2 linked regions of the Homo sapiens genome follow. The protein of the gene in region 1 purifies or fractionates together with the protein of each later gene. This does not show direct contact. Each region holds a gene or a part of one and is shown on either strand. Other genes may lie near its edges. The genes, in order: HHIPL1 and MYCBP2.

Evidence for each region.
Region 2: the proteins of HHIPL1 (region 1) and MYCBP2 purify together in Homo sapiens (co-immunoprecipitation; 2 studies listed by BioGRID and IntAct, with this or other methods). This does not show direct contact.

The regions. Positions count from the first base shown.
Region 1 is NC_000014.9:99,675,948-99,681,179, reverse strand, and holds the end of HHIPL1 (HHIP-like protein 1 isoform a precursor), read right to left. Parts: 3' UTR 611-5,232; downstream 1-610.
Region 2 is NC_000013.11:77,057,934-77,065,224, reverse strand, and holds part of MYCBP2 (E3 ubiquitin-protein ligase MYCBP2), read left to right. Parts: intron 1-490; coding exon 491-610; intron 611-2,527; coding exon 2,528-2,629; intron 2,630-3,434; coding exon 3,435-3,563; intron 3,564-3,923; coding exon 3,924-4,056; intron 4,057-5,598; coding exon 5,599-5,702; intron 5,703-6,818; coding exon 6,819-7,007; intron 7,008-7,291. UniProt on the Homo sapiens protein: Atypical E3 ubiquitin-protein ligase which specifically mediates ubiquitination of threonine and serine residues on target proteins, instead of ubiquitinating lysine residues.

The sequences.
Region 1 (5,232 bases):
GAAAGCCCTTTTCCTGGGTGGGCAGCGCTGCCTGGAAGCACGTGGCCAACCACCTGCTCCTTCACTGGAGGGTCTGGAGTAAGCTATCCAATGTGGCAGCCATTGGCCACATGTGGCTTTCTGGTACTTGACATGTGGCTAGTCCAATTGAGATGTGCTATGTGTAAGATACACACCAGATATCATAGATTAATACCAAAAAAGAATGGAAAAAAAAGGTCACCAGGCACAGTGGCTCACAACTGTAATCCCAGCACTTTGGGAGGTGGAGGCAATAGATCTTTTGAGAACAGTAGCTCAAGACCAGCCTGGGCAACATAGGGAGACCACTTCTCTACAAAAAATGAAAACAAACAAACAAACAAAAAAACTGGCCAGGCATGGTGGCATATGCCTGTGGTCTCAGCTACTCAGGAGGCTGAGGTGGAGGGATCACTTGAGCCTGGGAGTTTGAGGCTGCAGTGAACAGTGATGGGACCACTGCACTCCAGCCTGGGTGACAGAGCCAGACCCTGTCTCAAAAAAAAAAAAAATTGATATTTATATATAGGTACCTGTTAAAATGATAATATTTTGAATATGTTGGGTTAAATAAAATATATTATTAAAATTAATTTTACCTGTTTTACTTTTTTAACATGGCTACAAGCAGATTTTAAATTACCTATTTGGCTCACATTATGTTTCTATTGGATAGCACCAGTATGGACAATGACTATGGCCCCTAGAACAGGAGGATTAGCATTACCCAGGAGCTTCTAGAACTGAAAATTCTCAACCAAGACTGAGTCAAAAACTCTGAGAGACAGGACCCAGCAACCTGTGTTTTAAGCAGCCCTGTAGAACTTGATTCTTCTCAAGCTTGAAACCCACTGGTGTAGATGACACCATACGAGGAGTGGTTTCCCAGCAGGAATTGTTGGGGAGATGCAGGCATAAGAGGTGGCTCTGAATTGGCTGCCTTTACATGGGTGGCCTGGCAGGGTGGAGGTGCTGTATCCCAGGGAAGGAGAAGGATCCGGCTCTGGGAGAATGGGCCTTGGTGCAAACCTGCCTCTAAAGCCCCGGGGACCACTTACATAACACCCTAGGAATCTGTCCCCTCATCTGGAAAACAGGGACAGTGATATTGAGGGTGTCTCGTGGAGCTGTTGTCAAGATTAAATGAGCTGACACACCCGAGGTAGCTGGCATGTAATAACTGCTCAGTAAAAGCTAGTTCTCAGTGGGGGAGGAGGGGCGAGGGGACAGAAGCGCGACAAGAAGACTTGAGTTCTACATGTTAGGCTGAAGGAGCTCTTTCTTCTGCTATTGTGAGAGTTTCTTCCCATGTCATTCTGATGCTGGTCCTTCACGTGGCATGCCCCTCCTCACTCTGTCGCAGACAGTTGGCTGCTGCCAGCATGGATGCCACCAGCCTCGAACTGAGCTTTCTGTCTAGGAAGCAACCTAGAGTGTACGTGCCATGCACGTCTGCAATGCTACCTCATTTTTCATCCAGTAATCCTTCTGGTGACCTCTATTTTGCAATGAGACTCAGAGAGGCACAGAGCCAGGACTGGAACCCAGTTTCCAGCTTCCTTGAACCTCCCAAACATTTCTAAGGTATCAACATGGTGACCCCTAGGCTCAGTCTAGGGCCTGGGATGTTGTGACCTCTGACTGATGTCTTGAACACAGTCCTGGACACTGGGCCACCCCTGCAGCATTGACCCTGAGGCTCCAGCACTAAGCTGTGTGGCACTGGGCAGGGCAGCCCCTCTCTGAGAATCTGATCCTGGCTATTGACTAGAGGTTGGATTAGAGGGGGTGAGGGTGAAGGCTGTGCCCCCATCCTCAGAGGCCCTGGAGGACTTTAAGGCAAGATCGGAGTCCCTGGGGACAGAGTCACATGTGAATGCTCCCTCAGCGGCCAGCTGTAGGTGGTGGAGTGAAAGAAGCACTGGACAGGCAGCCAGCTCTGCCCTTCTCTGAACTTGTGTCCCAGTGGGGTGGGGCTGGCTTTCAATGCCCTTGAGGTGGCCCAGCAGGAAGGCCCACAGCAGGGTCCCAGAGCTGGACTACCTGGGCTCAAATTCAAATTTTGGCTATGTGACATTTGGTAAGTGACAAATGCCCTGGAACTCGGCTTCCACGTGAGTAAATGTGCATTAATATGAGGATTACATGAGTGAATGGTATGTTAAACTTTCAGAGCAGTGCTTGGCATGTAGTAAGCGCTCAGCAGAGGTCAGCTGTTGTAGAAAGTAAAAGTTCCTCTTGAAAGTTTCCCTTCTTGTTAAAGAATAAATCGTAAGTGTTAGAAATAATGGTTTCTTTTAAAGACGAACTTCCTTCAAACCTCCTTGCTTTATGCTAATAACTCTTTGTCAAGCCCTATTCTATGTAACTGTTAGACGTGCTCACAGGCACATAGTACGTTCTATGTCCTTATACTTTAACCAAGATATCTGTGCTGGACGTGCTCACAGGCATGTCCCAGCTCACAGCCTATACCCCTTCCTTATTTGGGAATATTATTACTTTTCTAAGTCCTTTCGTAAGCAACTTCCTCTTTTCCTTTATCCTTCCATTACTTTTACCTATTTAGAAAAATTTTAAACAGCCAATCGGGTTTTAGTTTAGATTGTGCGGTCTGGCTTCTGCCAATGGACATAGGACACAGTAGCAGGGACAAACTGCATAAGGGCTAACAATTGCTTCCCTCCTTTGTTCAGGTGTCCTCTCACTATTGTTCCATCTGCGATGAGCACCCTTTCTGCAGAAAGTAAAATTGCCTTGCTGAAAGAATTAAATTTATGTTTTAGTGCTATTTCTTTCCAGCATCGGGGAACAAGTATTTACATATAACAGCTGTCCACTCTTATTACTACCTAGGGCAGAGGTCTCCAAACCCTGGGCCACGGACCAGTACTGATGGGTGGCCTGTTAGGAACCGGGCCACACAGCAGGAGGTGAGTGGCAGTGGGGCAGGGTAGTGTGGGGAGCAAGCATTCCCACCTGAGCTCTGCCTCCTGCCAGATCAGCAGTGGCATTAGATCCGCATAGGAACATGAAACCTACTATGAACTGTGCATGCGAGGGATCTAGGCTGTGAACTCCTTATGAGAATCTAATGCCTGATGATCTGAGGTGGGACATTTCATCCCAAAACCATCCCCCCAACCCCCATCCATGGAAAAATTGTCTTACATGAAACCAGTCCATGATGCCAAAAAGGTTGGGGACCACTGACCTGGGGACTGTGGAGTGAGTCCCCAGGAGGCAGGCTGCAGCCTAGCCCAGGCCTGGTTTGGGGCCTGAGAGGTGATGAGTTGGAGGCTGGGGAGGAAGAGCGCCTGGCCTGGAAGACTGAAGGCCAAAGCCCGAACTGCCCAGAGAAGTACTGGAGGGCCTGAGGCCGCACCCAGAGCTCCCTTTGCCAACCCTCCTAATCCAGCTCTGAGCAAAACAGCTTCTGGGGCCAGGCAAGCAGGGCCCTGGCTCGGCTGCATTCTTGAGGGCCTCAAGGCTTGCTGCACCTTCCCTGGCTCCAGTCTCAGCGTGGCCTCATCTGGCAACAGGCCTGGGACACTCAGCCTCCCTGAGCTCACTTCCTCATCTGCACAGTGAGGAATTCGGCTGGGATGGTCATTAACGGCCTGCTATCTCCTAACACGCCCGGCGTCAGAGCTCAGAACTCCCCTGCATCCCAGGAAGATGCCCACTCAACCTCCCCTGGGCCACTGGAGGCCCGAGAGGAGCATGAGGCCAGCAGCGGGGGCACCTGCCAGGCAAGAGGAGCCCCCAGGGATCTCCATCAGCTGCTTCCCAGCCAGGCTGGCACTCCCACACCAGGCAGGAGCCCCAGCACACCGCTCTCTGCAGGCATAGTGTAGCTGGGGAGGGCAGTGGTTAGGGTGCGGGGACTCTAAACTAAGCTGCTGTATTCAAACTTGACTTCTCCCTTCCCTGGCTTGGTGCCCTAAGATATCTAACCTCTGTGTGCCTCAGTTTCCCATTCTGTAAAGCACAGAGTATGAGGAGTCCAAGACAGTGACCTAAAGCTTTCTGCTGCAGCCCAGGATCCTATACTAGTGGCTAGGAGACCCTATACTAGCAGCTAGGAGACCCTGCCAGACTCATGCCTGCCCCAAGGCCTGCCCAGCCACCCCTGGTGCCAGCTCCCAGAACTTGGCACAGCATCACCCCCTCCCAAAGCCCCCCCATAGGTTGGGTTTGGGTGCCCCACCCAGACCTCTTCCAACCCCCGACATGGGCCACATCCTGTCTTCACTGCCTGGTGACTCATCTGCTTACCCACCCCCCACCCGTGCTCCCATCCGAGGCTGAGCGCAGTCATACTAAGTGCCCCTCTGCGGCCTGGCACAGAGCCAGGGCCGAGCATCCCTGGAGTGAAGGAGCTTCCACCTGTGATGCAGGTGGGAAGCGGGAGGCCTCACCCCTTTCTCCTGGTTCCCACCCCGGCTCCCACACAGGTGCAGGTCAGAGAGGAGGCAGGAAAGTGGTGTGTAAACAGCCACATTATTGGCATAGCCCTGGGTGAAAAAGTGTCAGTAGTTTCACTGGACCCCCAGCCTGGTCAGCCCCGAGGTAGGGCTGGAGGAATCAGGTCTCCTGGGTTTACACTGAGCAGGGATGGGGATGGAAAGGACAGAGGTGGCCCCAGGGCCCAAACACAGCTTTGAAAGTAGTGGAGGCCCACCGACTCACTGGAGGGCCAGGGTGAAAGCTCTGCCCAGCTAGTGTGGGTGGCTTCTGCCCCAAGAGCAAGAGAGAATCAGGCCTCAGGGTTGGAGGAGGCTGGTCCCATCCCAGGAGCACCCACAAGGACTGAGTATGCTGCTGAGTGGCTTCTCCAGCATACGGCCTTGGAGGTCATCCAGTCCTCACAGCCATCCTCCCTGAGCAGGTGCTGGCTCCTCCACGCAGCCTGCCCCTCCAGTGGGGCCCCAGGCCTGCAGCTCACCCTGCTCCCACCTTCCAGAAGGCTTTCCCTTCCCCACTGGATGCCTTCCGGTTCTCTCCAGCGCCTCTGACTGCCAGGGGGTGGGGGGGATGCGGGCACCAGGCCATGCTGTCCGGGCCACATTCCTCAGGCCACCCTCCGGCTGTTCTTGCACCTTCCATTCCAGCTGTGGGCAGGACAAGCCTGGTTCTCCCCACCGCCCTCAGTCTGCAAGCTGTGCCTCTGTTAGCACAGCCAGGGGCCATGTCCGTCCTCGAAGCCTG
Region 2 (7,291 bases), on another chromosome or scaffold:
AATATTTAGGAACACCTAAATTATATGATAGTTAAATGTTTGTTCATTACAAATCAAGGTAGCAAATAAAGGTAGTTGCAGTTTGAACCTGTTTATATTTTAGGTTCCTGTAATACTCATCTAAAGCAGTTAGCTTCACTGTGTAAATTTTATGCTAAGTGACAAACTTCTCAAACATAGATAACCTTAGTATTTCTGTTATGTTTTTATCAGATGTGAGAGTAATTGCCCTTGATTTCCAGGAAAAGAGTATTGAGAACTTAATTTTTTATTTATTTATTTTTAAATATCAAAATGATGATTAGAAGTTGAATTTTCCATAGGATCACGAAGAAATTTTAGTTCAAAAGTTTGTGCCCATAATCTAAAATTCCATGGTCTCACTAAAAACAAATATTTCCTTTGATAGGAGATGTTATTTAAGAAAAAAGAGTTTACTATGGTAATACATTTCTGGTCACTTATTAAAATACTCTGTTCTGCTCAATAGGGTCATCTGTCAGAAGCTTGGTCCCGAGTGACAAAAAATGCTATTGCAGAAACCATCATTGCCTTGACCAAGATGGAAGAAGAATTTAGGTCTCCAGTGAGATGTATTGCAACAACTAGAGTAGGTTTTGCTTTGTTTTGTTTTGTTTTAAATTTGGTGTGTATCATTGCGTGTTCTTTTTTAGTAATAGATTTAAACAAATTTTAATCACTAAGTCAACATAATTATTTTTTAACCAAATACCGTATTTATTGAAAAAGTATAAAGGGCTTTTATATTATGAACTAGTCGTTACTTCTCACTGTTATGTGTTCTGTGTCACTTGTTTTTGTTATTGTTTAGGAAGCCAAGGGTACACTGGTTAGAAAAGGCTAATTACATTGTACATTGTTTGCGTGTTGTCTTTCTAATGATCTGTTTGCTGTAGTTTACCACAGTAAGTTTAGTGCCAGCATTATGCTGTGATAGACCGAAGGTCCTTTGGAGACAAGACCCCTGCCTATGCCTGGTTGTTCCTAATGTAGAGCCCTGTAACTTACTTACAGGATTTATAGGTCTTACTTCTAAAAAGCAAGAAGTGCTTGTCCAGGGCAGGGTCAGGGTGGAAATCTTTGAGGAAATGAGATTGCATTCTTCAGATGACACATTTATAGTAAGTTTTAACCTGCTAGATTTCATGTCCCATATACTTCCAGAAGAGATTTGAGATTTCCTTGAAGGAGGGCAGTCTGACAACGTTAGGAAGAAGTGAATGCTGGTAAAAATTGCTTAGGTTAATCCTCAGAAATCTGAAGAAGATAAACTATATATCCCTAGGGCGGAAAAAGTCAATTTATGCTATCTTGCTATTATTGACTGTGACACCTGAAATAGGTATTTTTGACAGTAATCCTTTCCTACCACTCATGTGTTGCTTTCTTTCAGTCTGCATTCCCCTTCCTCCTTGCATGCATTATTTCTTTTTCTATTTTTCTGTCCCTATTTTAACATCTCTTGCTTTCTGTATCCAATAACACTCACATGCACTTCTTAGAGTTGAGCTAGTTAAGTCATTTTCTATTCTTCATTAATGAGGGGATATATCATTCTATATAAAACTGAAGCTTACCCTTTAAGCCTCAGAAATTTTTAACTATTTCTGAAAACAGTTGTCTTTTTTTTTTTTTTTTTTTTTTTGAGACAGAGTTTCACTCTTGATGCCCAGGCTGGAGTGCAATGGTACGATCTTGGCTCACTGCAGCCTCCGCCTGCAGGTACAAGCGATTCTCCTGTCTCAGCCTCCCAAGTAGCTCGGATTACAGGCATATACCACCACACCTGGCTAATTTTTTTTGTATTTAGTAAAGACTGGGTTTCACCATGTTAGTCAGGCTGGTCATAACCCCCTGACCTCAGGTGATCCACCCACCTTGGCCTCCCAAAGTGCTGGGATTACAGGCATGTGCCACTGTGCCCGGCCCTATTTTGGAGAACAGTTTTCTAAAGCTTTTAGACATGTATGTATTTCTGACAAAGTGCACCAAGTATAGTATTAGGCTTTCTGGGGCAACAAGGGGCAACAAAGACTTCTGAGGAACTTTTATTATCTAGAAGGATTTAATGTGTACCTGACTACTCATGGGACTGTACACAATTTAGCAGTTGCTGTACCACCTTCTTTGGCATTTAATGATACTAAATGGAAAAATATTCAGAAGACATTAGTAGTAAATATTAAATATGCCAATTCATTTATTCATATGTTGTTTACATAGTAGACCAATAAAGGATAATTTTATTTGTCAGATAGAAGACAGGGTGGTTCATCAGAGAAACAGTCACTTGTTCAGTAGATATCTGAGTGCCTCCTGTGTGCATGGCACATAGGACAGTGATCGTGTATGCCTGCTACCACATCAGGAAGACTTGAGTGCCACTGAGTATCTATGTATTTTCAAAATCAGCCAGCATTTATTGAGCTGTTGTGATGTGTCACAGTCAGCATTTCATAAGTCTTTCCTAAAAATTCAGTGGTGTAACAGCCTTCCCTTTCAACAGCTCTGGCTTGCTCTCGCATCCCTATGTGTTCTTGATCAGGACCACGTAGATCGTCTCTCCTCGGGGAGATGGATGGGAAAGGATGGACAACAAAAACAAATGGTAAGATCAGAATTTTGTAAGAATTTATCTTGCTTTCCTTTACAGTAAGCTTTAGCTTAGCTTAAAAACAAACAAACAAACAAAAAACACATCAACATAAACAGTTAGTGGATCTCTTGAAAGATTGTGTCCCTTCGGCCAAGTTCATCTCACAAGTCTATTTCAGAGAGTCCCTACTTCATAGTATATGGAAACTTTAGGGGCTTTTATTTAAGTATATTAAAGAGCTTTCTTCTTCTCTGAGTCATGTTTGCATCATATCAAAATTTATTTTTAGCCAGAGTCTGATTTAGTGACTAGATATTTTACTAAAATGTAATCAGTCTTATGGTAGGAAGGAAATAAAGCAATAACACAGGCAACATGACACACCACCTGTTCACATATATACTTAAGTAGGTTTGATGGGTATCTTTAAGTTCACTAGAAAGGAAAACTTTATATAGGCCCTTTCACCATTTTCTTATTAATGTTCAAGTTTCAAAAATAAACAGTTTCTTCCTTTGGCATACAGAATGTTTAGATATATAATGGGGCAGACATTTCTTAAGTCTCTAAGTAACAAAGTATACCTGTTCATTGTATTAATCATTGAACCTGCAAAGCACATTAATGATTGGATTTGGAGTTTTGAGAGATTTTTATAGTTAAGTACATTTGCAATAATTCTGTTTAATATTCAGATTCTAAATTCTTAATAGACTTCCGAATAACGGTTTATTTTTGTAAATAAATTATATTCAATTTGTATGAGAGTCTGAGACTTGCTTGTTAATCTAAGTAACGTGGAAATGTCTTATTTTAGCCTATGTGTGATAACCATGATGATGGTGAAACTGCAGCAATCATTTTATGCAATGTCTGTGGAAATTTATGTACAGACTGTGACAGATTCCTTCACCTTCATCGAAGAACCAAAACTCATCAAAGACAGGTGAAGATTTTTGTCTCTGGAGCATAAAATATGTTCAGTGAATTTTGAAATAAATGTGTGAAAGAGGCTTTGTGTAGTAGGGGGAAAAAGTGGACTTTGGAATCAAAGACCTTGGTTGAGTTCACAGCTGTCTCGCTTACCATCTATAAATAGCAAGTTGTTTTATCCTTAGAAACACTTAATTTCTCCATTTATAAAAAAGGGACTGCTGTGAAGATTAAAGAGAAGATTGGAAATATTCAAAACTTCTTAGAGTGCTTAAATGAAAGCCATTATTATTATTGAATAATTAAATTTTATACTCTCCCTTTCAGAGTGATAAATAAGCATATTTTTCCCTGTTCTTTAATGAAATAATAGGTCTTCAAAGAAGAAGAAGAAGCTATAAAGGTTGACCTTCATGAAGGTTGTGGTAGAACCAAATTGTTCTGGTTGATGGCACTGGCAGATTCTAAAACAATGAAGGCAATGGTGGAATTCCGAGAACACACAGGTAAAAGGTTTAAAGATTGAGCCATGCCTTTAAAACCCACAAAAAAAGATTAAACCGTGCCAACTGATTAAACTGTGAATAATTTTGAGTGATATTCTGATGTTTAATTATGACATCATTGATCTATATATTTACTAAATATATAGAGTGTTCTATGGTGAAGAGAGCATTAGACCAAAAGTCAAGAAACCTGATTTGCCACTAACTAGCTGTGTGGTGTCGAGCAAGTCACTTAACCTCTGGAACTCATTGACTTCATTTATAAAGTGAGAGGATCACAACTAATGGGGCTCCATAGATAAAATACATTTCTATTGATAATTCCCTTCTAGTTCTGCTAGTTGTTGCCCCACAATAAAAATTGCTGCACTAGATGATCACTAAGATCTCTATTTATTATAAGGTTGTATGATTTTATGATATTTAGAGGTTTTTGTAGACCTAATGCTTCTGAAGGTGTTGTGAATGGTACTGTTTCCATTGATAGCAATAAAATAATTAACAAAAATGAATAGACATAAAACAAAAGGTAACCTATGTATGTTAAATGTATTTTTATCTCTAAAACATAGTTTTCATTTTGCTGCTTTTCTAAAGTAAATCTTGTATATTCCTAGTTCAAAGTTATGTTGAATCTTACAAATTCTCAGTTTTCAGCACATCTGCAGTCTGCCATTTGACTGACACGAACTTCCAGTGTTGGAGTTAGGTGTAAATCCGAATCAATTTAATTCTAGGGTGACTTTGCATGCTGCAAGAGCATGACCTTCTTTTCTCATAGTTGATTTCTTCCTCCTATAATCTGTCAGTGCTGTATACTGCATTAATAAATGTTCTAATGTCAAACCATCCTTGTAAACCATCCTTTTTAAATAGATTTTTCTGTAAATATTGCTGAATTCAATATATTGATATTAATTATAGTTAGATTTTTATATCTGTGTTTAAAAATCAGCTTGGTCTGTAATTTTCAAATCTTCACGTTCTTTTTCTTATTGCTCTGTTCTTGTTTTATTGATTCTGTTTCTTCTTTAAGTATTTCAAACATATTTAAATTCCTTTTCAAATTGCAGAGTTCCTGAGGTAGGAATTCTGTTTTTCAAGTTTCATACTCTGATGATAGGCTTTATACCATGCCTTATAATTTTGTTATATATAGTTAAAGATTTCCCTAACTTCTGTGTATTTTTATTTAATTTTTGGTTATCATATTTTTTATGGTATTGTGCATTTGGAGTCAGGGGCTTGTAACAGCTGCTCAGTCTGGTAACTTGACTAGAAGTCTAGTCTGTTTCTTTCACTGAAAAAAAATATTAGTCGAGAGTGTATTTGGCTTCAGATAGGTCTTTAATTTCTTTTTTTGTGTGTCATTATTTACTTTATAATTAGGACAACTTAGAAACCTTCCGTTCTAAAACTGTCAGGCTGATTTCCCAAGGATAGCAACTTATACAAACCTAGTTTGCTTTTTAAAATTTAGTTCTGTTAACATATCTAGAAAACATCCATAAGAAGGATTTTTATTTTTCTGCTTGAACCTAGGCAAACCCACCACGAGTAGCTCAGAAGCATGTCGCTTCTGTGGTTCCAGGAGTGGAACAGAGTTATCTGCTGTTGGCAGTGTTTGTTCTGATGCAGATTGCCAGGTGAGTATATAGTGACACAGGCCATCCCATTGTCCATGTTCCCCTGTGACACCTTTACTTCATACAGAAAAGAGTTTTAGCTCAGCGTCACTCCAGCTTCCTAAATGAGTGTATTACCTATGTGAAGCATCAAATGCCTTACCAAAGTTGAAGAATGGGTCAAATAAGGCTCTCAAGCCCAAACCACACTCTTTTTGTATGTTTCTCAGTTACCATGATCATATGTATTTAATATCTACTTTTGTACTAGAAACAGTTAAAAATTTATGAACTGTATTTCCTTTATCTCTTACAGACATTATTCACTTATTTCCTTAAAATACATTTTCAACATCTAAGAGTTCTTTAATCCTGAACATATATAAACATATTCTATGTTGTCCAAATGTTTTTGGTTTCTCAATTAATAAGAATGTGGATATGCTCAGAGAGTCAAAGGTACCTTTTTAAAAAAAAAAAAAATCTGCATTTTGGTGATGCGGAGAGTGGTGACTGGGAAATTATACATTGGGGAACTTTTTTTATTTTTTATTTTTTTGAGACGGAGTCTGGCTGTGTCGCCCAGGCTGGAGTACAGTGGCACGATCTCGGCTCACTGCAACCTCCGCCTCCCGGGTTCAAGCGATTCTCCTGCCTCAGCTTCCTAAGTAGCTGGGATTACAGGCGCGCGCCACCATGCCTGGTTAATTTTTGTATTTTTAGTAGAGATGGGGTTTCACCATATTGGTCAGGCTGGTCTCAAACTCCTGATCTCGTGATCTGCCCACCTCAGCCTCCCAAAGTGCTGGGATTACAGGTGTAAGCCACGACTCCCAGCCAGGAACTTTTTGCTTTATAGCTGTGCATGATGACAAATATGAAATTATAATTCACTTATCAGCATTCCCTTTATAGAGAGTGGCATTTTTTAAAAATCGCATCAAAAAAAAAAAACTTTGTTAAGAAGCCTAATTTATATTCAAACAAAGATTAGAAATAACTTTACTTTGTTGTTACTTGGCCTGCATAGATACTTCCTGTGGGAAAGTAATCTTTGGAAATTTATATAATAAGGAAAATTACCAGAATGTGTGCTTTTTTACATACTTGTGTAACATTGTAATTCATCTTTAACAGGAATACGCTAAGATAGCCTGTAGTAAGACGCATCCTTGTGGCCATCCATGCGGGGGTGTTAAAAACGAAGAGCACTGTCTGCCCTGTCTACACGGCTGTGACAAAAGTGCCACAAGCCTGAAGCAAGACGCCGATGACATGTGCATGATATGTTTCACCGAAGCGCTCTCGGCAGCACCAGCCATTCAGGTTGCCTCAGCTTTTAAAGTATTGAATGTATCCAGACATTAAGATGGGGAATATATTTGTCAAATAAACATTGATTGAGGCCGGGCGCAGTGGCTCATGCCTGTAATCCCAGCACTTTGGGAGGCCGAGGCAGGTGGATCACGAGGTCAGGAGATCGAGACCATCCTGGCTAACACAGTGAGACCCCGTCTCTACTACAAAAATACAAAAAAATTAGCTGGGCGTGGTGGTGGGTGCCTGTAGTCCCAGCTACTCAGGAGGCTGAGTCAGGAGAATGGCATGAA